Homo sapiens: one gene and its partners. The protein of the gene in region 1 interacts with the protein of each later gene in a pairwise test. Each region holds a gene or a part of one and is shown on either strand. Other genes may lie near its edges.

Region 1 (8,189 bases):
GTATCAAGCATACCATATATCAAACTCATTTCTGCTCATTTTACATAGTGAAAAATACAAAGTTGACACTGGTATTTGTTTTATCCGACTTAAACTGATTTTTTTCTGTACCCTTTGTTGTATTGTATAAATTTCTTTTAATGTTGCTATCAACTGCACTTACGCAATGATTTCCTTTTGCTGTTTGTCCACATGCAAACATACTTTTTTGTGGTTTTAATCTAGTAAACACTTTTATATTTTCACTTTCCTACTTGTCATAAATGTTTTCTAGGTTGCTTTGAAGTCTTTGTAGAAATTTGAATTGTCTTGCAAGTGGGTTTTTTTAACCAGGTAGATCTGGGTTTGGATCTAGTTCTGTCACTTTCTAGTTGGATGATTTTGGACAAGTTATACACCTTTCTGAGCCTGTTTTCTCATCTACAAAATAGTGATAATAGGAGGATTAAATGAGAAAATGTACCCCATTAAGAACTCCATAAGTAGATACGTACCAAAAAGTGCTGTTCTGTTTCCCCCTTTTCCTATGTAAAAATTCTACTTAATCATTTCATTATTGTTGGAGCACCAACTTTGATGTGGTACATAGTAGGTGCTCGAAAAATATTTGTTAAATGTATATGTGATTACTGAATGTGGTAGAGATAGTACAGCAGGCTAAAGTTGAGCGTAGAATGTTGTCAAAATTGGGTTTCTCTTTTCGTCTTAAAGTATGAAAGCTTTGACTATTCAATATTAATTATATTCAGTAATATTCATTCAATATAGAATGCTTTTGCCTGTTGCATGTTTCAGAAAGATGGTATCAGCAGTTCAGATAATTACTATTATACTATGATAAGGTTAGCCAGTCATTGATTGGAGCTCAAGACTTAAAGGAAAAATTTGGTTTGGGTCCTAGACTAGGATGAGGCAAATGAAGTGAGGGAGGCTCTTGCCTCAGGCACAAAATTTTAAATAAAGACAGAACTAGTAACAATGACAAGCCATATAGGAGCTCAAGGCGCAAAGAAAATTAATTCTGATCCCATCTTTATTTAGAATTTTGGTATTTTATCATAGGATTTTTGCATTAATTCTAATTTTTTAAAATATTGCATTAAAATGCCTATCTGATCACTGAGGTTTTTTTGGTGCCTTCTTTAATTTTGCACCCAAGACAAGTGTCTTACTTCACCCTTGTCCCAACCCTTGGTATGTACTCCGCACTGCAAAGTGGATAAGAGGATGATTTAAGCCAGGCAGGCCTGGTCCTAGTCTTACTTTGGCACTTAATAGCTGTGTGACCTTGGTTGACAAGTTACTTAACCTGTTTTGCTTCCATTTCTTTCTTTATAAAGCAGAGACATAAATAATAACGCCTCATGGGATCATTTTGAGGTTTAATTAGTTAATACAACAACGCCTGGCATAGAAAGTATTCAGTATTTCTCTGCTCTTCATTTTCAAGTCAGCATAGAAAAATAACTTATTTCTGTTAATTGTTTAAAAAACTAGTTCTCCAACCTGGGCAATGTGGTGAGACGCCATCTTTACAAAATACAGAAAAAAAAAAATTAGCGAGGCATGGTGGTGTACACAGCTGTAGTCCCAGCAGACCCAGAGGCTGAGGTGGGAGGATCACTTGAGCCTTGGGAGGTCAAGGCTGCACTAAGCTGTGATCACTCCACTGCACTCTAGCCTGGGCGACAGAGTGGGACCCTGTCTCAAAAACAAAAGTTCTGTGGGCCTTTCTATTTATATTTATTGTGCTATGGTGGTCTTCACTTACCTAACCAAGTGCCTTGATTAAATATCTACTCATTATTTGGCGTGTGTAATCCTTTATGTTTGCTGAATTCAATATTTTGAGTGCCAGTTCGGCAGTTGGCTAAAGAGAAATATGTATTCTGTTCATTATGATAATTAAAAAGTAAACAGGAAACAAAACGTATTAATATTTATAGTTTTAATTTTATGTGTTTTAAAATAAGTTCAGAATGAAAGAAAAATTGTCTCCTAACTTCTCTTTCAAGATTAGCTTGGATTAGAATTGCTCATTTACATTACTTCTCCCAAAAGTAGTTATAGATGTCCGGGACTGAGTGATGTTGAAAATTATAAATGCATCCAGATAGACCTTTGGGAATCCCCAAATTCATACAGAAATGCTTATTCAGACTTTAGCACTCTCTGGAATCATATTTCTTTAGAAAGTTCTGTGTTGATATGAACTTCACCACAAGTTAAATGCCGTTTCTGCATTTACTACAGTTTTACCTGTCATTTGAAAACCATTTTCCAGAAGGAAGACTAATTACTATAGACACATAAAGTATATATTGTAGACCTTTGGATTATTAGTGAATTGCCAAAACTGTGACTATTAAATTCTAGTATATTCTTCAAATAAGTAGTATATTATTTGAATGTTTAGATATGTTAATTGAATTCAAATAAGTAGTATATCATTTGAATGCTGAGATATGTTAATTGAATTCAAATAAGTAGTATATTATTTGAATGTTTAGATATGTTCATTGAATTCCTTGAGCTTAAAGTCTTTTTATAATTTTTACCTGTTTCATGGGAATCCTTGTGTTCTCAGATGGAAGCAGTCTTTCTTTGGAAATAGAAAACCTCTAAAGCAATAGGGCCCAATGTTGCGAGGACTAGAAGCAAATATTTGTTACAGGATCATTAAGGGTAATCATGAGAAGAGCCACTAACTTTAGTTCCTAGACCTGTGTATTCTACCTATAGGAAAAATAGCATCATATATTGAAATATATTGTAACCTGCAAAAAACAGCACTCCAGGCCAACAAAGTACCATTCAGCAGGTGCCATATTTGAGTCTTCACTAGGCTGATCCACAGAGGCAAGCTGTTTTGGAATGATAGGGTACGTGAGCCAGCGAATTATCTGGGTGTTGCACTGCCTTGTTACTTTGCCTGTAAAATTAGTTTTCTAGTCAGAAGTGATGCAGTGTGAGATACTATGACAGGAACGAGGCATTCTGTAAATTGAGATGAGATTTTAGCAGAAGCACTGCAGGCAAGAAAGGCAAATCCATATGCAGAGTAAAACTATTGCAATAAGAAAAAATTGCTGCCTGTTTCATGATGGAAGGGGTACAGTCAGGTGGCCAGCTGTTCTGGGAAACATATTAAGACTTCTTGTTCTTCTGTTCTGTGTTCTTCTTCTGCCATATCAAGACTGACCTGTTTCTGTGAGGTTTTCAGTAGTGGCTGTAGTCAGATCAGTCTTGGTGAGAGAAAGCCCGTGTCATTGATCCCACTGAGCAAAGATGAGAGAAGCTACAAAAAGAAGCTGAGGCCGGGCACAGTGGCTCACACCTGTAATCCCAGCACTTTGGGAGGCCAAGGCGGGCAGATCACGAGGTCAAGAGATCGAGACCATCCTGGCCAACATGGTGAAACCCCGTCTCTAATAAATACATAAATTAGTCAGGCGTGGTGGTGCATGCCTGTAATCCCAGCTACTCAGGAGGCTAAGGCAGGAGAATCACTTGAACCTGGGAGGCGGAGGTTGCAGTGAGCTAAGATCCCGCCATTGCACTCCAGCCTGGGCAACAGAGCAAGACTCCATCTCAAAAAAAAAAAAAAAAAAAGGAAGGCTTCTGTACATCTCTACAAAAAATACAAAAATTAGCCGGGTGTGGTGGCAGGCACCTGTAACCCCAGCTACTTGGGAGGCTGAGGCAGGAGAATCGATTGAACCTGGGAGGTGGAAGTTGCAGTGAGCCAAGATCACACCACTGCACTGTAGCCTGGTGACAGAGCAAGACTCGGTCTCAAAAAAAAAAAAAAAAAAAAAAAAGGCTGAATGGCATTCACACATTAGCTCATAATCAGTGCAAATCCACACTTCTGGTTCTGTCTTCTTTCAGGTCCAGTGCTTGAAGTTCTTCCCAAACCCACTTTCAGGTTGACCCCTGAATGGTGTCATCATATAATGCATAACCATCTAGAAACCATTGTGAATATTTTCCTTTCTCAGTCAGCTGGTCATAGGCAACTGTCCATCTAGTCATTGGTATCAGTTGAAGGAGAAGTGTCAGTGTGGTAAGACAAAGTGTTTTCTGAGTCTGAGCCACTTCTTATACAACTTGTTTGTACCTTTAGGTCCTTCTCAAGCTGATCTCATATATGCTACTTCCACTCAATGATGGAGAGCTGCTGTGCGTTCCCAGTTGTGTGGCTTGATGGGTCAGATGATGGGTCAGGTTATGGTGGTGTTATTTGCTTAGGCTGTACAATAATAGTGATAAAGCATTCAGTCTCTCAGATCACTGTATAATAATAGTGATCAAGCATTCAGGGACCAGCAACTCTAAGGAAGTAGCACAAGAGTGCTACACTCTGGGGGAAAAGAAGGAAGAAATAAAAAGGAATAGGTGTTACCTAAACAAGTCTGGTTGTTTTGAAATAGATTGAGAAACAAAATTAAATTCAGAAATTAGAACTAAGAAGGCACCTGTCCAGGCACTGTGGCTCACGCCGGTAATCCCAGCACTTTGGGAGGCCGAGGCAGGCGGATCACGAGATCAGGAGTTCGAGACCACCAGGGAGGTGGAGGTTGCAGTGAGCCAAGATTGCGCCACTGCACTCCAGCCTGGCGACAGAGCCAGACTCCATCTCAAAAAAAAAAAAAAAGAAGGCACCTGTAGGGATAATATACCTTCTCCAGCCTTCTGTTGTATATCAGTAGTACAAATGCAGGCAAAATAGTTTCCCAATAATTCCCCCTTTTCAGTGTTCTTTCCTATTCTGACTACATCTAAGACAGAATCTGCAGTCATTAACTCTCCCCACACTCCCTTTTAGATCATGTTTTGCTTCCTTAGCTTACTGTGCCTCCCAGCACTTAGTGGTTACAGTGCTTATTCTAGAATTCATATATACTATAGCATTTTTTGTTTCACTTTTTATTGTGGAAATTTTCAAAGTATAGTATAATGAATCCTGTGTACCTGTCACTCAGCTTCAACAATTACCAGTGTGATTAATTCTGTCTCTGCAATTTTTTGACAAAGACACTGGATCATTTCTTCTGTAGACTTTCCCACTGTATGGATTTTGCTAATTGCATTTCCTTGTTTTTTAACATGTTCCTCTGTCCCTTGTGTTTCCTGAAACTTGGTAGTAAGATATAGAGTCTTAATCAGATTCAGTTCAGATTTTTATTTTCTTCCTTTCTTTCCTTTAGCAGGACTACTCCATAATGTTCTATGCAATCATTAGATAAATAAGTCTGATTGTTTCTCCTTTTGTGATATTATCAGATATGTGAATACTGCCTCAACATATTAATTGGAGGAGAAAAAATTTATGATCTGTCATTCCTTCATTTGTTTCTCTTAGCCAGAATACTTCTATAAAAAGAAACTTCCCTTCATCAATTTTTGTTTGTTTGTTTGCCTTAAGAGACAGTACCAGTGTCTGTGCGTGTAGCGGGGGTGGGTGTATTTGACTCTTTCCCTTTAAGGTACAGTTTATAAAATAAATTGGTTCCTAGCATCCACTAAAGATGATGAAATACATATTTTTTTCATTATAAACTCGAGCATTTAAACATATTTGTGTTTCAATCCATTGTTGTTAGTGTCCTTATTTATTCTCACATTGTTCCATCTTGGCCAGTGGGAGCTTATTCAAGTTAGCTCTTGAGTCCCTTTGACATGGGCCTAATTTTAATTCTCCTTGATAGCTCCTTGCTTTTTAGTACAACAGCTTCTCCAGGTTCATCTTACACACTTCCTGATCTGGACCTGGAATTATGCAAGGAGCCCTAGAATATTTTAGTAGGAAATAAAAAATACCCCATTCTTTTTTTTTTTTTTTTTTTTTTTGAGATGGAGTCGTGCTCTGCCACCCAGGCTGGAGTGCAGCGGCGTGATCTCAGCTCACTACAACCTCTGCTTCCTGGGTTCAAGTGATGCTCCTGCCTCAGCCTCCCAAGTAGCTGGGACTCCAGGTGCCATCACATCTGGCTAATTTTTGTATTTTTAGTAGAGACGAGGTTTTGCCATATTGGCCAGGTTGGTCTCGGACTCCTGACCTCAAATGATCCGCCTGCCTTGGCCTCCCGAAGTGCTAGGATTACAGGTGTGAGCCACTGCACCCAGCCAAAAATACCACATTCTGATAGCCTTATAACCTTATATACTGCTCAGGAGCTTGGTACGCCTCCACATGCCTAACATCTCTAAAGTTTTTTGACCCTCACCTCTGCTGTCTCCCTGCTTGCTACTAACAATAATTACTTTCTACCAAAAAAAAAAATGTTCAAAAACATCTAAAAGTGATCAAATCAGTAGGTTTGTTTAAAGGTAAAGGACCAGAAGAAGATACTTACAACAATTTCCTTACCATCCCCACCTTCCAACTCTATGGAGTCAGAGAGGCCTTTGAGAGAAGATAGAAACATTTGCACAAAAATATGCTTGGGGACTTGACGATGACACTGTTGGCTTTTTTTTTTTCTTAAAGCTTGCAAATTACAAAGGGGGAAAGTGTAACTTTGGAGTGGAAAAATCTGGCAGATAACTACCTTAGTCAGCATATCAAAGTTGGCATCACTTGTAATGGGACAAATTGACATTTGCCTCCTGATAGGATACTCTGAGGACACATCATTTGTATAGTATTCCTTTCAAAAATGCATTACCTTTATCATGAGGAAACAGTGAGACAAACACAAACTGAGGAATATTCTATAAAACAGTGAACCCCCAGGAGTTTGAGACCAGCCTGGGCAACACAGGAAGACCCTGTATCTACAAAAAATAAAAATTAAAAAAATAAAAAATAAAAAAAATCCCAACAGGCATAGTGGTTGTATGCCTATGGTCCCAGTAACTCGGGAGGCTGAGTTGGGTGGATCACTTGAGCCCTGGAGGTTGAGGCTGCAGTGAGTCATGATCATGCCACCACACTCCTGCCTGCATGAAAGAGCAAGACCTGGTCTCAGAAAAACCAAACCCCCCAAAAAACAAAAAGATACCATGAAAGTTAAAGGGTGGAGGAAACTGTTAGAATTAAGAGACTAAACTGACATGATAGCCAGATAAATACAAGGTATGACCCTGGAGTTAGGGAAATAAGTTGCTATCCAGGACAATACTAGGACAATTGGCAAATTTAAATATGTACTATATATTGAATAATAGGTTATCAATATTAAATTCCCTGATTTTGAAAAATAAATTGTTGTTATCTAAGAGTATATCCTTGTTCTTGAGAAAAATACACTGAAGTTTTAATTGCTGAAAAGTCATGGCTGTTGCACTGAAGTATTTATTGCTGAAGAATCATGATCTTTGGAACTTACTCTCAATAGTTCTGTAAAAATAATAAGAATATATATGATATATATATATATTGGATGTATACATAGAGAAAATAGTGCACATGTGATTAAATGTGAACAATGGATGTATCTAGGTAAAGGATATGGGATTTCATTGCATTATTGCAACTTTTCTATAGAACTTAAGATTTTTTAATAAATAATTCAATTTAAAAGATTGTATTAGTCCATTTTCACACTGCTATAAAGAACTACCTGAAACTGAGTAACTTATAAGAAAAGAGATTTAACTGATTCACAGTTCCACATGGCTGGGGAGGCCTCAGGAAACTTACAATCATGGAGGAAGGTGAAAGGGAAGCAAGGCATGTTTTATATGGCAGCAGGAGAGACAGCAAGCAGGGGGGATCTGTCAAACACTTTTAAGCCATCAGATCTCATGAGAACTCACTTACTATCATGAGAACAGCATGAGGGAAACTGCCCCCATGATCCAATCACCTCCTACCAGGTTCCTCCCTTGACATGTGGGGATTATAATTCAAGATGAGATTTGGGTGAGGACACAGAGCCAAATCATATTATTCTGTCCCTGGCCCCTTCCAAATCTCATGTTCTCACTTTCAAAACACAATCATGCCTTCTCAACAGTCCCTGAAAGTCTTAACTCATTCCAGCATTAACCCAAAAGTCCAAGTCCAAAGTCTCATCTGAAACAAGGGAAGTCCCTTCCGCCTATGAGCCTGTAAAATGAAAAGCAAGTCAGTTACTTCCTAGAAACAATGAGGATACAGGCATTGGGTAAATACTGTTATTTCAAATGGGAGAAATTGGCCAAAACAAAGGAGCTACAGGTCCCATACAAGTCCGAAACCT
Region 2 (8,420 bases), on another chromosome or scaffold:
TACAGGTGTGAGCCATCGTGCCTGGCCTTCTTTTCTTTTTTTAAGCCCAGGTTCTCGCTCTGTCGTCCAGGCTGGAGTGCAGTGGTACAATCATAGCTCACTGTAACTTCAAACTCCTGGGCTCAAGTGATCCTCTCAACTCAGCCTCCTGATTAGCTAGAATTATAGGCGTGAGCCACCGTGCCCTGCTAATTTATGTTTTTAACTTTTTGTAGAGATGGTTCTTACTATGTTGCCCAGGCTGGTCTTGAACTCCTGGCCTCAAACGATCCTCTTGCCTTGGCCTTCCAAAGGAATTATAGGCATAAGCCACTGAGCCCTGCCCCGAGATTCTAATATGTGCCCAGCACTGTGCAAAAACCCAAATTAGCAATGAAACAAGACAAAACCTTGCCCTCATGGAGCTGCCTTTCTAGTTAGGCAGGGATGGACAACAGAAAATGTACTCAGTGAAAGAGTATACATGTGAAAGGGCATATGAAAGAAGAATAAAATCAAAGTAAAGGGGAGAGGAGTGGTCAGGGCAGGCCTCTCAGAGGAGGTGACATTTGAACTTAGGCCCAAAGGAGGAGAAGGAACTGAGAAATGGGGTGTTCTAGGCAGAAGGAGCGGCAAGTACCTGACTCCTTGGACAAAAAAGAGCTTGGTGGGTTCCAGGAATAGCAAAGAGGTCTGTGTAGCTGGAGAGGAGAGAGGGAGGGAGGGCCAGCATGGTGGGAGATGGCAGCAGGGAGGTTGAGAGGTGCCCTTTAAGGCCACTGTGAAAAGCTTGGATTTTACTCCCAGGGGGAAGCTACCATTAGGAGGTTTTAACAGTGACATGTTTGATTTATGGTTAAAGAGCTGTGGCATGCACCTGTAGTCCCAGCTACTGGGGAGGCTGAAGTGGGAGGATCACTTGAGGCCAGGAGGTCGAAGCTGCAGTGAGGTGTGATTGTCCCACTGCACTCCAGCCCTGGTGACAGAGTGAGACCCTGCATCAAAAAAAAAAGCTCAGCGGCTGGGCACGGTGGCTCATGCCTGTAATCCCAGCACTTTGGGAGGCTGAGGTGGGCGGATCACGAGGTCAGGAGATCAAGACCATCCTGGCTAACATGGTGAAACCCCGTCTCTACTAAAAATACAAAAAATTAGCTGGGCGTGTGGCGGGCGCCTGTAGTCCCAGCTACTTGGGAGGCTGAGGCAGGAGACTGGCGTGAACCCGGGAGGTGGAGCTTGTAGTGAGCCGAAATCACACCACTACACTCCAGCCTGGGCGACAGAGCAAGACTCCGTCTCAAAAAAAAAAAAAAAAAAAAAAAAGCTCTCTGATTTTAGCTGTTAGGTGGGAGATGGGTTGGAGGATACCAAAGCCAGCTTGCAGGCTATGGGGATAAAGAAAACACCTGGATTTCGGACCTACTTTATAGGTAGAGGTTGGCAGACATGCTGAGAAGGATGGATGTGGGGTGTGAGAAAAGGGGAGACAGCAAGCTGCGCTCCTCATTTTTAATTTTTATTTATCTATTTTTGAGACGGAGTTTCGCTCTGTTGCCCAGGCTGGAGTGCAGTGGCACCATCTCAGCTCACTGCAACCTCCACCTCCCGGGTTCAAGTGATTCTCCTGCCTCAGCCTCCTGAGTAGCTGGGATTATGGGTGTGCGCCACCACACCCGGCTAATTTTTGTATTTTTTAGTAGAGACGGGGTTTCGCCATGTTGTCCAGGCTGGTCTCTAACTCCTAACCTCAGGTGATCTGCCCTCCTTGGCATCCCAAAGTGCTGGGATTACAGGTGTGAGCCACCGCGCCCAGCCCCAATCCCTATTTTTCAGTCTAGTGGATGAGTGGAGGGTGGGGCCGTTTGCTGAGATGCAGAAAGATCAGGGATAGGTGGAGAGGGAGCTGAGGGGGCAACTTTGAGGTCCAAGCGAGGATGTCAAGGAGGATGTCTGTCTCCTCCAACAAGGTAGGCTCATTCCAGCCTCACGGCTTTTGCTGTTCTGTCTTCCCATGTGCAGGAAATGGCCTCTCTGCATCTTCACATACGGGGATTTTCTCAGCCTTCTGGCTTTGGCTCAAATCTCACCTCCTTGGCGTCCTTCACCCATCCCTCCAACTAAAATCCCGAACTCCTCCACCTAAAGACTCAAATTATCCTGTTTAAATCCTGATTGCGCTGGGCGCGGTGGCTCACACCTGTAATCCCAGCACTTTGGGAGGCCGAGGCAGGCAGATCACCTGAGGTCAGGAGTTCGAGACTAGCCTGACCAACATAGTGAAACCCCATCTCTACTAAAAATACAAGAATTAGCCGGGCGTGATGGCTCATGCCTGTAATCCCAGCTACTCGGGAGGCTGAGGCAGGAGAATTGCTTGAAACTGGGAGGCAGAGGTTGCGATGAGTGGAGATCGCGCCATTGCACTCCAGCCTGGGCAACAAGAGCGAAACTCTGTCTCCAAAAAAAACAAAAAACAAAAAAGGCCTGATAGCACTCACCACTATTGTTAACTTTCTATCTTCCCAATCAGATTGTGGGCTCCAGTAGGGCAGGGTCCACATCTTGGTCTTGTTCACCACTAAATCCTTAGTGCCTAGCACGGAGCCCACCATAGAGAATAGACTACATGAATTGTAGAGTGAGTGAATAATCCTGTTGGCCGTATGCACTGTTAGGAGGGTGTGTTTGAGATACAGATGACACCCAGGGTCTCACATTCTTGCAGGAGGGAAAGAGACGTCAGCCCTGGGTCCCAGAAGAGGCCACTGACCCAGTGGGAGTTCAGGGAAGGCTTCCCAGAGGAGGTGGAGGTGACAGCTGCAGCTATAAGGGAAGGAAGAACAGAGCGTTATGCAGCATGTGAAGGCTTTGGAGACTTGTGAGGGCACGAACCGGGCTCACTATCCCATTAGACAAAAGTGGCTGAGGAAGGATGAAACTGTGTCTAACTCTGCCTGGTGACCGAAATCTTGTCCATGGGTGACGCTTAAGAAGTGACCCTCGGCCGGGCGCAGTGGCTCACGCCTGTAATCCTGGCACTTTGGGAGGCCAAGGCGGGCGGGTCACGAGTTCAGGAGATCGAGACCATCCTGGCTAACACGGTGAAACCCCATCTCTACTAAAAACAGAAAAAATTAGCCGGGTGTGGTGGCGGGCACCTGTAGTCCCAGTTACTCGGGAGGCTGAGGCAGGAGAATGGCATGAACCTGGGAGGCAGAGCTTGCAGTGAGCCGAGATTGCGCCACTGCACTCCAGCCTGGGCGACAGAGCGAGACTCTGTCTCAAAAAAAAAAAAAAAAAAAAAAGTGACCCTCATAAAAAAATTAGCTGGGCACGATGGTGCACACTAGTCGGAATGCTGGGGTGGGAGGATGACCTGAGTCCGGGAGTCAGAGGTTGCAGTGGGCCGAGATCGCGTCACAGCACTCCAGCCTGGCGACAGAGTGAGACCCTATCAAAAAATAGCAGCAGGCCAGGCGCGGTGGCTCATGCCTGTAATCCCAGCACTTTGGGAGGCTGAGGCGGGCGGATCACGAGGTCAGGAGATCGAGACTACCCTGGCTAACACGGTGAAACCCCGTCTCTACTAAAAATACAAAATATTAGCCGGGCGTGGTGGCCGGCGCCTGTAGTCCCAGTTACTGGGGAGGCTGAGGCAGAAGAATGGCGTGAACCTGGGAGGCGGAGGTTGCAGTGAGCCGAGATCGTGCCACTGCACTCCAGCCTGGGAGACAGCGCAAGACTCTAGCTCAAACAAACAAACAAACAAAACAGCAACAACAACAACAAAACCATCCTCCCCTCCCGAGGGGACAGAACAGAAACGAATGGGCGAGTGCCGGGCCAAGCAGTGGGTCTCCAGCAGGTGGCATTAAAATAGGAATTTTGGCTGGGGACGGTGGCTCACACCTGTAATCTCAGCACTTTGGAAAGCCCAGGCGGGCGGTCACCTGAGGGCAGAACCAGCCTCGCCAACATGGTGAAATGCCATCTCTACTAAAAATAAAAAATTAGCCAGGCCTGGTGGTGGGTGTCTGTAATCCCAGCAACTCGGGAGGCTGAGGCAGGAGAATCGCTTGAACCAGGGGGGCAGAGGTTGCAATGAGTCAAGATTGCACCACCGCACTCCAGCCTGCGTAACAAGAGCGTGTAACTCTTGTCTCAAAAATAAATTAAATAAATAAATAATAAAAATAAAAAAGAATCTTCATTCATGGGAAGTCGAGAACACATGAAAACAAGTAAAGGCCGAAGCGCAGTGGCTCACGCCTGTAATCCCAGCACTTTGGGAGGCTGAGGCGGGCGGATAACCTGAGGTCGGAAGTTCGAGACCAGCCTGACCAACAGGGAGAAACCCCGCCTCTACTAAAAATACAAAATTAGCCGGGCATGGCGGTGCATGCCAGTAGTCCCAGCTACTCGGGAGGCTGAGGCAGGAGAATCGCTTGAACCCGGAATGTGGAGGTTGTGGTGAGCTGAGATCGGGCAATTGCACTCCAGCCTGGGCAACAAGAGCGAAACCCTGTATCAAAAAAAAAAAAAAGAAAAAAAAAGGAAGAAAAGGCCTAAAGGCGCCGGGCGCGGTGGGTCACGCCTGTAATCCCAGCACTTTGGGAGGCCGAGGCGGGCGAATCACGAGGTCAGGAGATCGAGACCAGGTGAAACCCCGTCTCTACTAAAAATACAAAAAAATTAGCCGGGCGTGGTGGTGGGCGCCTGTAGTCCCAGCTACTCGGGAGGCTGAGGCAGGAGAACAGCGTGAACCCGGAAAGCGGAGCTGGCAGTGAGCTGAGATCGCGCCACTGCACTCCAGCCTGGGTGACAGAGCGAGACTCCGTCTCAAAAAAAAAAAAAAAAAAAAAAAGAAAGAAAGGGCCTAAAGGCTCCTCGCGGCTTCCGTATTACGGAACACACGCACAAAAATGGCGGCGACCTGGTTTACAGGGGCTAAAAATGGTCACGTGATAAACCAACTTCCGGTCTTTCGCCCAAAGCACGTTCCCTACTTCCTGTGCTCTTGCGGAGACGCGCGCGTCGGGGTTTAACGCGTTTCTGGGCCGCCGTAAGCCCGGCCTAGGGGCAGCTTTGACTCGAGAGCCGGCTATAGGCGCATGGAAGGTTCCCTGGAACGGGAGGCGCCAGCGGGGGCGCTGGCCGCCGTGCTAAAGCACAGCTCGACGTTGCCGCCCGAAAGCACCCAGGTCCGGGGCTACGACTTCAACCGCGGTGTGAATTACCGCGCACTGCTGGAGGCCTTCGGCACCACCGGCTTCCAAGCAACCAACTTCGGGCGCGCTGTACAGCAAGTCAATGCCATGGTGAGGACCGGGCGGAATTTCTAGGGACGCGGAGGGGCGTGGCTTGTAGAACCAACGCGGTACTAGACGGGGGCAGCGTTTCCAGTGGAGGGGATATGTCTTTTATTTGAGTTGCCCAATAGTTGGAGGAAGGCGGGACCTATTCTGGGCGGGAGTTTCTGTCCTGGGAAGGGGATTTTGCACTCTGGTAGTTACATGCTGGTACGGTAACCTGAGGAGGCGAGGACTGATTCTTGGTGTGGGGGCGGGTTCTAGGTACATTTAAAGCTTTCTGGAATGGGCGGAGCCTGGGGCAAGACAAATTAAGGGAGGATATGGGAGGAGGAGCCTAAGTCTGGGCGGTTCTTGAATTTAGATTTGCTTTTCCCAGCGGGGAAGGGACCGGATCTGAAAGGAGATGCTCTCTGATTCCTAAAAGGGTGGGGGCTGGCTGGGCGCGGTGGCGCATGCCTATAATCCCAGCATTTTGGGAAGCCGAGGCGGGTGGATCAAGAGAAGAGGAGTTCGAGACAAGCCTGGCCAACATGGTGAAACCCTGTCTCTACTAAAATGCAAAAAATTAGCCGGGCATGGTGTTGCGCGCCTGTAGTCCCAGCTACTCGGGAGGCTGAGGCAGGAGAATCGCTTGAACCCGCGAGGTGGAGGTTGCAGTGAGCTGAGATTGCGCCACTGCACTCCAGCCTGGTGACAGAGCGATACTCTGTCTCAAAAAAAAAAAAAAAAAAAGGCCGGGCACGGTGGCTCATGCCTGTAATCTCAGCATTTTGGGAGGCCGAGGCGGGCGGATCACCTGAGGTCGGGAGTTCGAGACCAGCCTGACCAACATGGAGAAACCCCGTCTCTACTAAAATGCAAAAAATTAGCCGGGCATGGTGGTGCGCGCCTGTAGTCCCAGCTACTCGGGAGGCTGAGGCAGGAGAATCGCTTGAACCCGGGAGGTGGAGCTTGCAGTGAGCCGAGATCGCGCCATTGCACTCTAGCCTGGGTAACAAGAGTGAAACTCCGTCCAAAAAAAAAAAAAAAAGGGTGGGGGCAAATCCTGAACGTGTGTCTTGAGATCTGGTCTGGGAAGGGGCAGAGTTTACACAGGAGATGTTCCTTGGTCCCCTGTAGAACTGGTCCTGTATCCCTGAATGTGCAGGGCCTGGGGTGAAATCTGTTTCTGGAGCCCACCTGGAGTCCTGAGTCTGGGATTTAAGGCCAGTGCTTAACTTGACTTGGCCCTTACTCACAGATCGAGAAGAAGCTGGAACCACTGTCACAGGATGAAGACCAGCACGCGGACCTGACCCAGAGCCGCCGCCCACTTACCAGCTGCACCATTTTCCTGGGATATACATCCAACCTCATCAGTTCAGGCATCCGTGAGACCATTCGCTACCTTGTGCAGCACAACATGGTGGGGACCTGGTGAGGCCGTGGCCTTGGCCTCTGGGTCAATGGGCAATGCAGTTATTGATCGTTTAAGTGAGATGGGCAGATAGGGGTCTGTTATAAGCAGAGGAATAGAATCAAGTTTTGTTTTGTAGCAGAGCTCCCTCATAAGAGTCACTGGACAAGGATGAGGTTAGAAGTTCTGCCCAGAATGAGGGCAGGGGCTTCCTTCTTGGGCCAAATTCACTGCCTTGTGGCTGCAGGTGGACGTATTGGTGACCACAGCTGGCGGCGTGGAGGAAGACCTCATCAAGTGCCTGGCGCCCACATACTTGGGCGAGTTTAGCCTCAGGGGGAAGGAGCTCCGGGAGAACGGGATCAATAGGTGAGAACCCTGAGTGGTGTTGGGCAGGGGAGCTGGACCAAGGGTCCTGGGGCCTGATGCCTACATGCCTCCTGTTCTCAGGATCGGAAACCTGCTGGTGCCCAATGAGAATTACTGCAAGTTTGAGGACTGGCTGATGCCCATTCTGGACCAGATGGTGATGGAGCAGAACACAGAGGTGGGGCTGGGGCAACCTGGAGGGGCCAGTTCAGTGGGAGTCAGGGGAGGCATGGCCTGAAGGTCACATCCTCTCCTAGGGTGTAAAGTGGACGCCTTCTAAGATGATCGCCCGGCTGGGCAAGGAGATCAACAACCCAGAGTCCGTGTATTACTGGGCCCAGAAGGTGAGGACCTAAGCGGGAGCAAAGTAGCCAGACTTTGGCATGTGTTAACTTATTTCATCTTTCCAGCCTCCTGGGGATTCAGTACTGTTATTCTCAGCATCCTCACTCTTAGATGAGGAGACTCAAACACAGATAGGCGTGGTAATTTTTTTTTTTTTTGAGACAGGATCTTGCTCTGTCACCTAGGCTGGAGTGCAGTGGTGTGATCACAGCTCATTGCAGCCTCAACCTCCTGGGGCCAAGCAGTCCTCCCACCTCAGCCTCTCGAGTAGCTGGGACCACAGGCACATGCCATCATGCCCAGCTAATTTTAAAAATTTTTTGTAGAGATGGGGGTCTCCCTGTGTTTCCCAGGCTGGTCTTGAACTCCTGGCGTCAGGCAGTCCTCCCACCTTGGCCTCCCAAAGTGCTGGGATTACAGGCGTGAGCCACTGTGCCCAGCCAGGCTAGGTAATTTTGTCTGAAGTCACACAGATAACTAGTGGGGCCTCAGCATCCTTATGCTCCTCCCAGACTATCTCTGGAACAGTAGAGGCAACACTTAGCAACTCTCCTGGGGCCTGGCTCAGGGTCCCACACTCCCAGATGCTATAAAATAAGAGCTACCCACTCCCTTTAATTAGAGAATCAGAACCTGAAAAAAAAAAAAAAAAAGCTACATAGTCTTTTTTTTTTTTTTTTTTTTTTTGAGACAGAGTCTTGCTCTGTCGCCCAGGCTGGAGTGTAATGGTGTGATTTCAGCTCACTGCACCCTCCACCTCCCAGGTTCAAGTGATTCTCCCGCCTCACCCTCCTGAGTAGCTGGGACTATAGGCACCCACCATCATGCCCGGCCAATTTTTGTATTTTTCTACAGATGGGGTTTCACCATGTTGGCCAGGCTGGTCTTGAACTCCTGACCTCAAGTGATCCACCCGCCTTGGCCTCCCAAAGTGCTGGGATTACAGGGGTGAGCCACCACACCCAGCCTACTTACTCTTTCTTTTTTACGAGACAGGGTCTCATTCTGTTTCCCAGGCT
Region 3 (6,244 bases), on another chromosome or scaffold:
TTTAGTTCCTTAGCTTCCTCACCTGAGAATAGAGATAGTACTTGCTTACCTCTCACTGTTGTCTGAAGACCCAGGTGAGATTATTTTACCTAGCACTGTTGCAATACAGCCTAGAGCTGCACCATTAGTACTATTCAGTGGTTTGTGAGTTTGTGCAGCCATGTCCAAAGGAATAACGGTGCCCCCTTCAGCAGCACATATACTAAAAATTGGATGATATAGATTAGCATGGCCCCTATGCAAAGATTACACGCAAATTTGTGCATTGTTCCGTATTTTGCGCAATTTACAAAGGTTGTTGAAAAAAAAAAACACAACAAAGGAATAATAACCATGCCTTGGGTTAGCTATGCAATATCAAAGAATGACCTGTTTGCTTATATTAAAACATGTTTTTTTTAAAATGCAGTAAGAACAATTCATATACTGGTGATGAGACCAGGAGTGAAATCTGTATTATGTTTAGGATTCTTGGTACAAATTATAATAGTAAAATGAAAGGGAATTGTAAAGTATTGGTCTCTTGTTTCCTCTGTTTTGAAGAGTCTCAAGTCAAAGTCGTGGCCCTGTGTGCTGGTTCTGGGAGCAGCGTTCTGCAGGGTGTTGAGGCTGACCTTTACCTCACAGGTAGGACAGACTTTGGATCTCTCTTGGTTTATTTTTTGCAAAATCAAAAATGGCAAATTTTAGGACAGTACCTGGCACATAGATGATACCTAATTAATGTTTTCTGAACCTGAACTAAACAGAAACTACAACAGAACTGGGGACTTACTGCATTCTTTGTGGAGGGATGAAATCATTGAACAGTTTATTACATTATCTCAAAAGTTAATGGTCAGCATTTATTTTACCTACATTCTTCCTAAACTGTCCCAAACCTCTCAGATTTCACATCAGTGGGATACTTTCTACCCTGTCACCTTAGCTAGGAAATGGTTCCTTTTACTCAGCCTAAAGCCAATCATCAATTCCTATCAATTCAAGCTCCCAAATCTTTCTAGAATCTTCCCCCTTATCTCTATCCAGGCACCATCTCCTACTTGAAGTACAGCATCAACCCTCTAATGGTATCTTCCATATACTCTCCTGAAATTAACTTTTCAAAGTGCAAATTTGATGGTCTTGATTAAAAAGACTTCAGTGATTTCCTTCATCTGTCTGGTGGAGCCTGAACATTGCATCCCCTTTCCTGTACCCTTTGCTTATGCTGTTTTCTCTGGCTAGAATGCCTTTTCCTTGTACTCCTAGTGATAAGTGAACACCCCCTCTGAGAAGCCTTCTCTGACACTGTCCTGCTCCTGCCTCTTGTGGGTCCCTATCACTTTGTCCTTGACCTCCAATGTGCACTTCTGTTGGATAGTAATTGTCTGGCTGCTGGGCCTTATACTTTCTCATTTAGGATACTACCTAATAGGTCCTGGCTAATTTTTATTGAAAGAATTACTTTATGTAGTTACTACTCAGGAATATGGCCAAACATGGCCCCTTACACCTCCAAAGGATTTGGAGGCATTTTAAGGGGTTGCCACTTTGTTTACCTCCTCCTTCTTAGGGTTAGGAGAGAATGAGTTAAAGAATTACTTTTCCCACTTTGAGGACCAGGCTCTAGGCTCTTAGCCCTCTGGCCATTCCTTTGGCTACTTCCATGCTTCCCTTGCCTCCCACACCCACACTTTGTTATATAGCACACTCTCTTACAAAGGCTGCTGCACTCAAAGCATTGTCACATCCTGAAGTACCGAGGAGCAGCATCTGAGCAAGCCTGATGGAATTGCTCTAAACCAATAAATTGATTTAAAAAAACAAAACATGTATGTGACTATTACTTATTTTATATTTTCTGAAGATAAAAGATTTTTGTAAGCCCTTAAATTTCTACCAGATTAAAGTGAAATTTCAATATGAATATCTTACAGTATTGTGTCTGGCTATTTTAAAATTCATTTTAGCATTTTACTTAGGAATTTCAGACCTATGCAAAAGTTGCAAGAATAGTATACTGAACTCCTATATGCTCTTCACCTTGGTTACTATGGTTATATTCTGCCATATTTGTACATTCCCTATGTGCATATTATATATGTGTCTATACACATTTGTGTTTGCATGTATAGATACATAATATATACAAGTTAAAATATGTTCTATATATATATTGATGTATTTCCCCTAGGACCATTTTGTAATCAATTGCAGACATGACAATTTCTTTACCTCTCAATACTTCAGTGTATAGTCTAAGAACAAAGACATTCTAAGTCCATGGAACAATTATCAAACATGGGAATTTAATATTGTTAAAACACTTACTTGATATACAGTCCATATTCACATTTTCCCAATTGATAAAAGCTTATAGCATTTCTTTTTCTGATCCATATCCAGCCAATGATCTCACATTGCATTTAGTTGTTGTTAGTCTCCTTCAGTCTGGAATAGTTTCTCAGCTTTGTCTCCATAGCATTGACATTTTTAAAGAGTATAGGCTCTTTGTTTTGTGCTTCTCTCTCAATTTGGGGTATCTGTTTCCTTATACTTTTTTAAAAACTAGTTTTTTAAAACAATGATAAAGTATAATGATACGTGCATAAGATAAATTCAAGCAGTTCCAAAATGTTAAAATGTCCTTCCTATCTGGCTGTGGGGAGAAATAGAAAATATATTATCCGGCTAGCATTAGCTGTCTCTGGTCTGTGAGGCATCACTTTTGAGTATAACTTCAGAGATGTGAAGCCCCACCTAAAGGACCTCTGCTGAACTTCATCACGCTTCCTGTGAGCCTGAGGCCGTGTTCTCATTGTATTAGGTTGTTAAGGGTAATACCCCGTAAGACCAGCAGATGGGGAGCCTGCTCCTTGTAAATTAAGTTCTCCCATTTGTCTTTTCATTCTCCATTTGCTTATTCTTTCCCAAGCTGCCATCCTGGGCCAAGCTTTTCTTTCCATTGGCTTCAGCTATTATTGCAGGGTCTTCACTGATTTCCCCCCTTTCATGCCTTCTCCAGCCAATGAATTTGTCACAGTACAGGCAGCCAGACTTACCTTTCCTAAAACAAGGCTTCCAACTGGGCCATCTTAGTGTCTTTTTCTTGCTTTTTACTTCTACTATTATAGATTAAGATGTTTTAAAAGGTGCTTGAATAAAAACTGTTCCTTATAATGAGATGACACTTATTAGGAGGAGATTGTGGGGAACTAAAAAATTCTGGAATTAAGAAAACTCATTTTTTTACTTATAGGTGTTTTCTTATGGGAAAATTAAAAGAGAACTCATTTTTTTCCAAGAACCCTTTTTTCTTAAATTTATATGCCCTTCTGTCTCTAAATACAGTTCAAAATTGTACTTTTTAAAGAACAAACCTAATTGTACACAGTACAGTTTTGCTCTTAAATTAGAAGTCATCAAATTCACAAACTGCATTTTAAGAAATTCAGAATATTAGGCTGGACATGGTGGCTCACGCCTGTAATCCCAGCACTTTGGGAGGCTGAGGCGGGCAGATCACTTGAGCCCAGCAGTTCGAGACCAGCCTGGCCAACGTGGTGAAACCCCATCTCTACTAAAAATACAAAAATTAGCCAGGCATGGTGGTGGGTGCCTGTCATTCCAGCTACTCGAGAGGCTGAGGCAGGAGAATCACTTGAACCCAGGAGGCAGAGGTTGCAGTGAGCTGAGATCGTGCTACTGTACTCCAGCCTGGGTGACAGAGCAAAACTCCATCTAAAAAAAAATTAACAATATAAATTAAAAATTCAGAATATGAATTTTCCCCAAATCTTTTCACAACAGATGAGATTCCCTCCAGAGTTTCTAGGGATTTTGCTTAAGTCAAAGAAAAATACTTTGTTTTTAACCTGGAAGTAATCTTAAATTCATTTCATCCTTATATATTAGACTAAGTTGACGACAGAAATACTGGTGCTTACAAAGCATAAGTCTGCTGGGCAGTATACATATAATTTCCTCCAGAGGTATTTATTACTTACATAAGAGGCAAATTTTCTGAAGGCCTCATTTTACTTGGCAGTGATCATTCATTTTACCGTGGAAACACTTTGAATGGGTGTTTACAGATCTGGTTCTGGCCAGATATGTTGGATTGGATAATTGCCTTGGGGTCTGCTAAGGAAAAAGAAGTTGGAATTCTCAGTGGGATGGATTTTATTTTTATATTTTCAAGATAGTCTTACTCTGTCACCCAGGCTGAAGTGCAGTGGTGCAGTCTCGGCTCACTGCAACCTCCAGGCCCTGGACTGAAGCTATTCACCTGTCTCAGCCTCCTGAGTAGCTGGGATTACAGGCACGCACCACCACGCCCAGCTAATTTTTGTGTTTTTAGTAGAGATGGAAGTTTCACCATGTTGGCCAGGCTAGTCTAGCACTCCTTAGCTCAGGTGATCTGCCTGCCTAGGCCTCCCAAAGTGCTGGGATTACAGGCGTGAGCCACCGCGCCCAGACTTTTCTCTCTTTTTAAGTTGGAGGACATAAAAGAAAACTGTACACTACTTTCTAGATTTATATGTAAAACAGTTCTGCTCTATTACATTCACTTCATATAGACTACAAACTTGGTATTTCTGCTTTTGTGTTTCCTCATTCCACAGATTCCATATTTAGCATTTAAGAATTTGCTCTTCCCTTTTTGGTAGGTGAGATGTCCCATCATGATACTTTGGATGCTGCTTCCCAAGGAATAAATGTCATCCTCTGTGAACACAGCAACACTGAACGAGGCTTTCTTTCTGACCTTCGAGATATGCTGGATTCTCACTTGGAGAATAAGATAAATATTATCCTATCAGAGACTGACAGGGACCCTCTTCAGGTGGTATAATTGCAGAAACATCAGGATAACACATTCTACAAATCAGCTGGATGCCAACTTAAATTTGTAACATGAGTCAGTGGGACTGGTGTGCTTCCAGAGAGTGTCTTCGAGGGTATCATCATTTCCGGTTTGTTAATCTTATTCACCAAATGTTCTATCGCTCGTAAGGTAAAACTGTAATATAACTACCATATTAAATAACAAATGTTCATTATAAACTCTAGGAAAGATTGAATAAAATCTGTTTACTTAACATTCTTTGGAAGGAGCTCAAGTGATTCTGTCCTTAGTTTAATTGTAGATGGGATGGATCCATTTGGGTATCTCTGCCCTTGGTTAGTTAACATTATGCTTGAAAAACTTGGGCTTGAACACTTCTAGGTAGTAGCCTTTTTGCAGTGATAAGAAGTTCTGTTTGTCCTTGTTCCTAGTTCTGCCTACATTCCAGTCTCTCACCTAAATTTCAGAATCAGAATGAGATTTATCAGGATGTTGTTTTGAAAATATGTATACACAATCATTATTCATATTACTGTTACTTTATTGCTTTTTAGATGACTTACCTGTAATTTTTTTTTCTTCCACAGTCCTTTGTTCCCGATTTCTGCTCTGTCACTTCCCTCTCCTGGCAATGAACTTGGCTGCCGCAGGCAGGGGGCAGGGCCAGGGAATGAAATTCCAGAGCAGAAAGAACAAAGTCAGATATCTCAAAATATCATCCTGCCCCATTTAATCTGGGCCTTTTATCCATGTGGATGCCCCTTTCTAAACAGCACCTGCGCTGGGCTGCGAGGCCCCTGCCTGCCTGCTGCTGGTTGGGCAGGGCAGATACACCTTTCTCCACCTGAGGACTGCGTTCTCAGGTAATCTGGCTAAAGCAATATTCCCTCCATTTTAGGCATTCTTAGATTGCTTTTATGATTTGTGCTATTTTACCATACCACATGTAATTTTTACTTCATGCTTTTGTGTAAAGCAACTTTTTCTCTTTTTGTTTATTTTTTATTGTGGTAAAATTCACATAACATAAAATTCGCCATTTTATTTTCCTGCCCCCCCCTTCCAAAATTCACCATTTTAAAGTATACAATTCCGTAGCTTTTAGTACATTTACAGTGTTGTGGTACTGTTACCACTACAGTTCCAAAGCATTTTTCATCACCACAGAGGGAAGCCCCCATTAAGTAATAATTCCCTCCTCCCATCCCCTGGATCCTATTTCTATGGATTTGTCTATTTTGGATATTTTCTATAAGTGGAATCATAAACATGTGGTCCTTTGTGTCCGGCATCTTTCACTTATGTTTTCTCCATTACTGCCGCCTTTTGTGTTTGATTTTTTTTCTAGTATTTTGACTCCCTTATTTCCTTTTAAGTATCTATTTTATCTTCTTACCTATCTTTAAAGGAAAT
Region 4 (8,189 bases), on another chromosome or scaffold:
AGACATATAGATCAGTGAAATAGAATTGAGATTGCAGAAATAAGTGCATACAGTTATGATCACTTTTCAATAACGATGCGAAGACAATTCAAAAATGTTATTTTCAAAAAATGGTGCTGAAATAACTGGGTTTCCACATGGATAATAATGAATATGGATCTATACCACACACCGTGTACAAAATTAACATAAAATAGATCAAAGATATAAATGCAGGAATTAAAGACATAACATTTTTTGAAGAAAACATAAGGGTAAGTCTTCATAACCTTGAGTTGGGCAGTAGTTTCTTAGATGTTATATCTAAAGCATAAGCAACCAAGAAGAAATATAGATTCAAATTTGTCAGAATTAAAAACCTCATATTGCAAAATGCACTGTGAGAAAAAATGAAAAGACAATCTACAGAATAAGAAAAGTATTTGTAAATCATATATGATAGTGGTCTATGATATGGTCTGAATGTTTGTGACTGTGTCCCTCCATTCATATGTTGAATCCTGTAATCATCAAGGGGATGGTATTAGAGTTACCATATGACCCAGCAGTTGCATGCTTAGCTATATTCCAAGAGAATTAAAGATGCATTTATTAAAAAAGTATATAAACTTACATATTATTTGCTAACAATGCAAATGCTCATTGGCATTTTTAACAGCATTATTTATAATAGCCAAAAGTGCAAATAACCCAAATGTCATCAGCTGATGACAGCATAAATATAATGTGGTATACATACAATGGAATATTATTCTGCTATGAAAATGAATGAAATACTGATACATGCTCCAACACAGATGAACCTTGAACATATGCTATGTGAAAGAAGCCAGATGCAGAAGGCCACATATTCTAAGATTCTAGATTAAGTATCCAGAGCAGGTAAAAACAGAGGCGGGAAAGTGTATGTTGCCTGGAGCTGGAAGGAGGGTAGAATGGGGAGGCATGAGTTTTCTTTTGGGGAGGATGGAAATATTCAAAGATAGGTAGTGGAGATGATTGTAGAAGTCTGTGAATATACTAAAAACCATTGCATTATATACTTTGAAAGGCTGAATTTTAGAGTGTGTGAATTAAATTTAAAAAAAAAACTATCTCATACTGTCCAACTAGGAGACAGAGACCATATAGTGATTTTAACAGTGGAGGTTTAATACACAGAATTACTAGTTATAACATGATTGAAGAAATAGAAATTGACTTGTAAGAAGTAAAGACAACTTTTAAGAATACTGTAAGAGCAGACTTAATAAGTAGCCACTAACTCTAGGGCTGTTCCCATACTGGGGCTGAGATTCAGGTCTGGTTGAAGAGGGGACAGATGTCACTGGCAGATGCTGAAGTTGCCGGATACCATGCTTCTGGAACTTATTCTCCCTCTGGCATTCTGAACCTTGGAATTTGCTGCAGAAGCCACGTGAAGGGGTTGAGAAAGCTGCTCAGGGAGATTCCTTGGTGGTGGCATTCTGCTGCAGAGTTACTCAATAGAGTGCTGGGGTGAGCTTCTGCATGCTTGTGAAACTACTCCTGGCAGGAGTCTGGCTAGAGTAGTACGTTGGAACCATGAAGAGAAAAGCTCTTCCTCCTACAGTGTACCTCCAGTTGCCTCTACTGACAAGGCTTAACATCATGCCAGCTGGTAACAGAGCAATGTTGAAAGAGCTCAGCTCCATTTTGGGAGAGAAAGCAATAAGAAGTGGATTTGGAAATGGGAGGTAATAAATTGATACCTGAATCAAGAATCTTACGTTAAACCACATACCAGTTTAGCATATATTCTGTTTTATTGGGTTGAGTGAAAGTATCAGGTATTCATCTCAAAACAGCTAAATAAAATTTAAAATATGCATTCATATAATACATTTAGAGAATTGTGTTTTAAATTATTACAAAAAGCAATTTATAACTAAAAAACATACTTCTACTTAATACAGAAGTATTTTAAATGAAAAGTAAAAATTTCCCTCTTATTCCTCACTCCTTTACCATCTGTCTTCTGAAGAAAAATCTGTTAGCAGTTGATATAGTTTCTTCTGTATACATATATGTGTGTATATATTTTTCTTAGTAATAGAGGTTCATGTATTGATACTGCATATGATCTGCTTTTAGGCTTTTATTGTTAGAAGGAAATGTAGCTGTGTAATGCCCAAGGGCATTGTACTAAGGGTAGTTTCCTAGTCCTGGCTAAGTTGCAAGTACTTGTGTAAGTTAGGAGTAAGTCACATAACTATTCTATTTGATTTTCTAAATTTGTAAAATGAAGGGACTTTTACTTGAATTTTAAAAATCGGTGATGGATATAGTTCAATAATACTATTAGGGGAAGGAGAGGTAGTTTGGTAATTCTTAAGTATCAGCTAACTTTTAGTATGGCCTATATATTCTTATTTTTTAATATGTTTTGCAATTTAAATGTTTTTTATTGAGTTAAATAGTTCTACTTGTTTATGTGTCTGTGGTTAGCTGTGTATACTATTTCAATTTCTATGACATTAGAGTAATAAAACTTTCTTTTTTTCTTTAGAAGAATCCTGCAAAAATGTCTCTCTATCCATCTCTCGAAGACTTGAAGGTAGACAAAGTAATTCAGGTATGATAGTTTAAATACTTTTGTCAAAACAAACACAGTAACATGCATTCTACTTATAGGTGAAATAAAGCAAGATAGCTAAATAGCAGATATATTTGTTCATTTTTACACTTCATAAACCTTTTTTTAGTTTTATTAATTGCAGACTGAAAAGTTTACAGAAAAATTAGCAATTTTTTTTTTCATTTCACTGTGAATTAATAGGCATGAGATTTTTTTAATTCGACTTACACTTTTTACATTTCTGGTTAAAATTTAATTATATGTAACATATTTGAGTTGACAAAATATACTCCAATTTTGTAGATATTCATAGTTTTGTATAAAATTGGTATATTTTTCTTTTGGATCTTTAGGTATGACCACTCTTTAATTCTATGTCTCTTAACTGAAGTTAAAATTACAGAAATAGTGGCGTACATGCTGCTTTTAGAAGAGCAGTCATGTAAGAGCACAGGGAAAGTGTAGTGATTTCTTTCCTTTGAGAGATGAGCAGCAGACATTTCACTTGTTCATTCTCTAAATGACTGTGTAGAGATTGCAGTATTTCTAATTGCATTGAGTTGAAAATTTTTATACTCCTTTGTATAAGTATTAGCTTTGAAGACAAATGCTTCTGCTTAAGAACAAAGTGAGGAATTGGGACCAATTCTGGCTAATTGGGAAATTTTTGGTAATTATTTTAATTGGGGGTAATTTGTAGTATATGATGAATTTGTTTACGGTTAGCTTTCAACTTGATCTCTTATCAATTTAGAATTTCTTCAGCCGTTGTTTATTGTTTTAATTTGACAAGATAAACGAAAACTCCTTACCCTGAAGATCATTTTATTGGGTCCCTGTCTTCAATTTACTAGAAAGTGAGATATTCAATTTACTTACTGATAATTGAATTATGAACAATTATTTTCTATCATAGATCCAGTATGGATATTAAAATGAGGTTTGTAAAATCTCTAAAATCTACAGTTCAGCTGCCAAGGCTTTGATGCCTCAAAGTTTCAAGTGGCCTATTCAGTCATCTTTTACATGTTCCTATCACTTCTTTAGTATTTTGTCAGTATTTTCTTCATGTGGTTTTTATTTCCACATAGTTCATCTAAACAAGCACTTTTCTTTTTAAAAGGCCTTTATCTGAAATATTTAGCTTTCCAGAATAACTGCTTAGCCATTAATATGACATCAATACATTAACTGATAAGGATTTTTAGATGGACCTGTAAGAATGACTAATCTGTTCTTTGTTTTCATCCTTTTTTTGTTAGCTTTTTATGGAATTGAATGTAAATTCACCATAGTCAGATATGAGCTGAGGCTTTTGGTTTTGAAAACAGCAGCAGCAGAAGAGTTGATATTGACAAATATTGGAATGAAAAATAAAGAGGGCTACAATCTGTATCATGCTGCCCTCTTTAAGCAGAAGTGAATTACATAGATATTTACATTAAAGAACGTTTTATGTTCAGAGCAGAAAGCAGCTGGGAGATAGAACAGTGAATAAGGAGTGGGAAACATGGTTCTTTTATTACCCCTGAATTTAAAAATATTCCTAATTTAGCCATTAAACTCTTTGGCTGTTTTTGTTTTGTTTTGTTTTGTTTTTTTGCATCATTTTCTAAGGTGGATGATACTCATGTTTGTTTTTATTCTTAAGATTCTCCTGAAACGGTATTATGAAGGAAGGTAGTATTCATTTTCTCATCTGCTGGCCTTTAACACCACAGCAAAGCTAAATTACAGCAATGAACCAACCATTCATATTTTGTAAACTATTCTGCAGTAGCCACTAGGCTGTGGCTTTTAGCATCATACAGTCCCTAGACCTTTTTCTCTCCATTCCAAATCCTGACAAGAGCCTGTGGTTTCCTCTACTTATGCAAAGTAAGCTTTTAATAAATAATGATATACAGAACCAGAGCTTATCAGTTTCCTAATATGGTGGGCAGAATTTGGCAGCAGTGACGCTACAAGCATGTTTTTTCCACATCCTTTCTGTTAATGGCAGAAACAATAGGCCCTGGCATGCTCCTTGGGGCACCCCAACCCCTTTTTTTAGTAGTGTCACATTTCAAAGTAAGTTTGAAATAAGTAGCTACATTTAATGGTTTACAGTACTTAAAATTGGGTTACATCCTTTTGTTTCATTTTTACTGCAAATAACATAATTAAATTTAACTTTGCAGGGAGCTTTCTATATGTATTCTTCAGTATTCCTTGGATTAAAAACAATAGCAATGAAAGAACAGAAATTCATAACTACATACAAAGGAGAAGTATTTTAAATTAATAAGCTGTGTTTTAGAGCAATTTTAGATTCACAACAAAATTGATCAGAAAGTACAGTATACCTTCTGTCCTCACACATGCACAACCTCCCCCAGTATCAGCATCTGCACCAGAGCAGTACATCTGGCTCATTAATATCACCTGAAGTCTACATATTTACATTACATCACATTAGGGTTCACTGTTGGTGTTATATGTTCTGTGGATTTTGACAAATGTATAGTGACGTGTATATAGTCATGTGTTGCTTAAAGACGGATATGTTCTGAGAAATGCCTCATTAGACAGTTTTGTCGTGCAAACATTATAGAGTGTACTTCCACAAATGTAGATGGCATAGCCTACTACACATCTAGGCAGTATGGTATAGTCTGTTGTTCCTATGCTACAAACCTGTATGATCCCACCTGTATGATACAGTAATACTGCATGTTACTGTACTGAATACTGTAGGCAATTGTTACACAATAGTATTTGTGTATCTAAACACAGAAAAGGTATGGTAAAAATACAATGTAAAAGATTTAAAATGGTACATCTGTATAAGGCACTTACCATGAATGGAGCTTCCAGGACTAGAAGTTGCGCTGGGTAAGTCAGTGAGTGAGCGGTGAGTGAATGTGAGGCCTAGGACATTATTGTATACTGCTGTAGACTTTATCAATACTCTATACTTGGGCTGCACTAAATTTATTTAAAAATTTTTCTTTCTCGAATTATAAATTAACCTTAGCTTCCTGTAACTTTAATTTTTTAACTTTCTGACTCTTGTAATAACATAGTTTAAAACACAAACATTGTACAGCTGTATAAAATATTTTCTTTCTTTATATCCTGATTCTATAAGCTTTTTTCCTATTTTTTAAATTTTTAGTTTTTAAAAATCGCTTGTAAGTTTGTTAAAAACTGAGACACACACTCACATTAGCCTAGGCCTGCACAGGGTCAGGATCATCAATATCACTGTCTTCCACCTCCACATCATCCCACTGAAAGGTCTTCAGAGGCAGTAACATGCATGGAGTTGTCATTTCCAATGGTAATAGTGCCTTCTGGAATACCTCCTGAAGGACCTGCCTGAGACTGTTTTACAGTTAACTTTTTTTGTAAGTAGAAGGATATACTCTAAAGGGTATAACACAGGAAATACATAAATGAGTAACATAGTCATTTATTATTATCAAGTATTATGTACCATGCATAATTGTAGATGCTATACTTTTTTATATATGACTGGCAGTGCAGTAAGCTTATTTACACCACCATCACCACAAAGTAATGAGTTGTTCTGTGTGACGGCAGCTATGATGTCACTAGACAGTAGGAATTTTTTAGCTCTTTTATAATCTCATGGGACCACTATTGTATATGTGGTTCATCATTGACCAGAACAGGCAGCACATGACTGTATACCATTGTAGCATTAGACAGAATAGGTTCACTGCTCGAAAAATTCTTTAATGCCTGTTCTTCCTTCCCTTCTAGAAACTCCTGGCAACCAATAATTTGCTTTTGCTTTTGTGTTTTCTTTAGCGTCAGGATGTCGCTCTGTTGCCCAGGCTGGAGTACAGTGGCACAGTCATGGTTCACTGCAGCGTCCATCCTCCTGCCACAGCCTTCTAAGTAGCTGGGACTACAGGCATGCACCACCACACCTAGCTAGTTTAAAAAGAAAATTTTTTTTTCCCCCAAAACGGAGTCTGGCTCTGTCACCAGGCTGGAGTGCAGTGGTGCGATCTTGGCTCACTGCAACCTCCTCCTCCTGGGTTCAAGCAATTCTCCCTGCCTCAGCCTCCCGGGTAGCTGGAATTAACAGGCATCCACCACCATGCCCGGCTAATTTTTGTATGTTTACTAGAGACAGGGTTTTGCCATGTTGGCCATGACAAACATGACAACATGCCATGTTGGTCAGTTGAACTCCTGACTTCAGGTGATCTGCCCACCTCAGCCTACCAAAGTGCTGGGATTACAGGCATGAGCCACTGTGCCTGGCCAAAACAATTTTTTGCATAGGCAGGGTTTTCCTATGTTGCCCAGGCTGGTCTTGAACTCCAGGCCTCAAGCAACTCTCCAGCTTCAGCTTCCCAAAGTGCTGGGATTAAAGGCCTCAGCCACTGTGCCTGGCCTAATATTTTATTATCTCCACAATTTTGCATTTTTCAAAATGTCGTATAGTTGGAATCATAAAGTATGTAGCCTTTTGAGATTGGCTTCTTTCACTTAGTAATATCCACTTAAGTTTCCTCCATGTCTTTTCATGTCTTTATAGTTCTTTTTTTTTTCCCAGTGCCGCACAGTATTTTTTTTGTTAGACATGATTCAAGAAGTAATATAACAAGCCACTAGCTCCTTTTAGCTAATCGGTGGTGAAAGAACTTTCAAAGTTCAACACATGTTCAATTTGTGGATTGTTATTTATAATTATAAAGATTTTCATGCTGTATTTTGTTTAAATCTAGAATGTTTAACAAATTATGAAATAATAAATATTAAAGGATGACTCAACAAGTATATCAGAACATATAATTTTAGTACCATTCAAAGCTTTCATAGGCTTTACTTATTTAAACTAAGCTTTCATATCTCCAAGCATCTTTGGGAATACTCTTGACATTGATTTTAGGGCTAGGTTGAGATACTACTATGAACTTCATTTTTAAAATGATACATTTCCAATAAAGTAAAAAGTTGGTAGAGATTGGTCATACAACTTATTACCAAACTTGTCTCTAATGACATATAGCTATTTCAGAAAGTCAGATCTAATTGTAAAGGATAAAGTATTTCCATCAGTGAGATACTTCATATGATGTAGGCCATCAAGACAGCCCTGAGAAGAGGATACTTGAGCATGAGTAGCATTGATAAATGCTAGAGTGTCAGAGTGTGTCAGAGTGATTTTGGCAAGTTTGTTTAACAGTTACAAATTACATTACCTTGTCATCATCGATTTATGTCAGTGATAAACTGTGCTATTTTCATAATTTCTGATATTTTAAAAGTATTTAGCATAAACCCCTTCCTATACTTGCTGCAATGAAGATAAAGATGATTTCAGTGGGACATGCTTAGTATTAATTTTTTAGGTGTTTTTCTGATATGTGACTTTTATATGAATATGGGTAAGGTTTTTTCTTATGCAAATAAAATATTTTTACTTGGACTAATTAGTAAAAGAATAATGAAAATGTAAAATTTATTCATTTTAGAATGCACTTTGAAAATATTAATTTATTGTGGCAGCACTATGAAGTGCTGGTTATAAGACATGTAGAATGGTACTTCTACAATTTTTTTGTGATAGCCT

What was found.
Region 2: the proteins of EIF5A2 (region 1) and DHPS interact in binary tests that used the Homo sapiens proteins (3 or more experiments, as listed by UniProt).
Region 3: the proteins of EIF5A2 (region 1) and NIF3L1 interact in binary tests that used the Homo sapiens proteins (3 or more experiments, as listed by UniProt).
Region 4: the proteins of EIF5A2 (region 1) and SDCBP interact in binary tests that used the Homo sapiens proteins (3 or more experiments, as listed by UniProt).

The regions. Positions count from the first base shown.
Region 1 is NC_000003.12:170,898,031-170,906,219, reverse strand, and holds part of EIF5A2 (eukaryotic translation initiation factor 5A-2), read left to right. Parts: intron 1-8,189. UniProt on the Homo sapiens protein: Translation factor that promotes translation elongation and termination, particularly upon ribosome stalling at specific amino acid sequence contexts.
Region 2 is NC_000019.10:12,678,437-12,686,856, reverse strand, and holds the start of DHPS (deoxyhypusine synthase), read left to right. Parts: upstream 1-4,976; 5' UTR 4,977-5,090; coding exon 5,091-5,297; intron 5,298-5,486; exon of another isoform or gene 5,487-5,743; coding exon of another isoform or gene 5,744-5,824; intron 5,825-6,531; coding exon 6,532-6,696; intron 6,697-6,934; coding exon 6,935-7,056; intron 7,057-7,137; coding exon 7,138-7,234; intron 7,235-7,313; coding exon 7,314-7,400; intron 7,401-8,420. UniProt on the Homo sapiens protein: Catalyzes the NAD-dependent oxidative cleavage of spermidine and the subsequent transfer of the butylamine moiety of spermidine to the epsilon-amino group of a critical lysine residue of the eIF-5A precursor protein to form the intermediate deoxyhypusine residue.
Region 3 is NC_000002.12:200,898,842-200,905,085, forward strand, and holds the end of NIF3L1 (NIF3-like protein 1), read left to right. Parts: intron 1-543; coding exon 544-627; intron 628-4,652; coding exon 4,653-4,837; 3' UTR 4,838-5,084; downstream 5,085-6,244. UniProt on the Homo sapiens protein: May function as a transcriptional corepressor through its interaction with COPS2, negatively regulating the expression of genes involved in neuronal differentiation.
Region 4 is NC_000008.11:58,562,492-58,570,680, forward strand, and holds part of SDCBP (syntenin-1), read left to right. Parts: intron 1-2,527; coding exon of another isoform or gene 2,528-2,542; coding exon 2,543-2,593; intron 2,594-8,189. UniProt on the Homo sapiens protein: Multifunctional adapter protein involved in diverse array of functions including trafficking of transmembrane proteins, neuro and immunomodulation, exosome biogenesis, and tumorigenesis.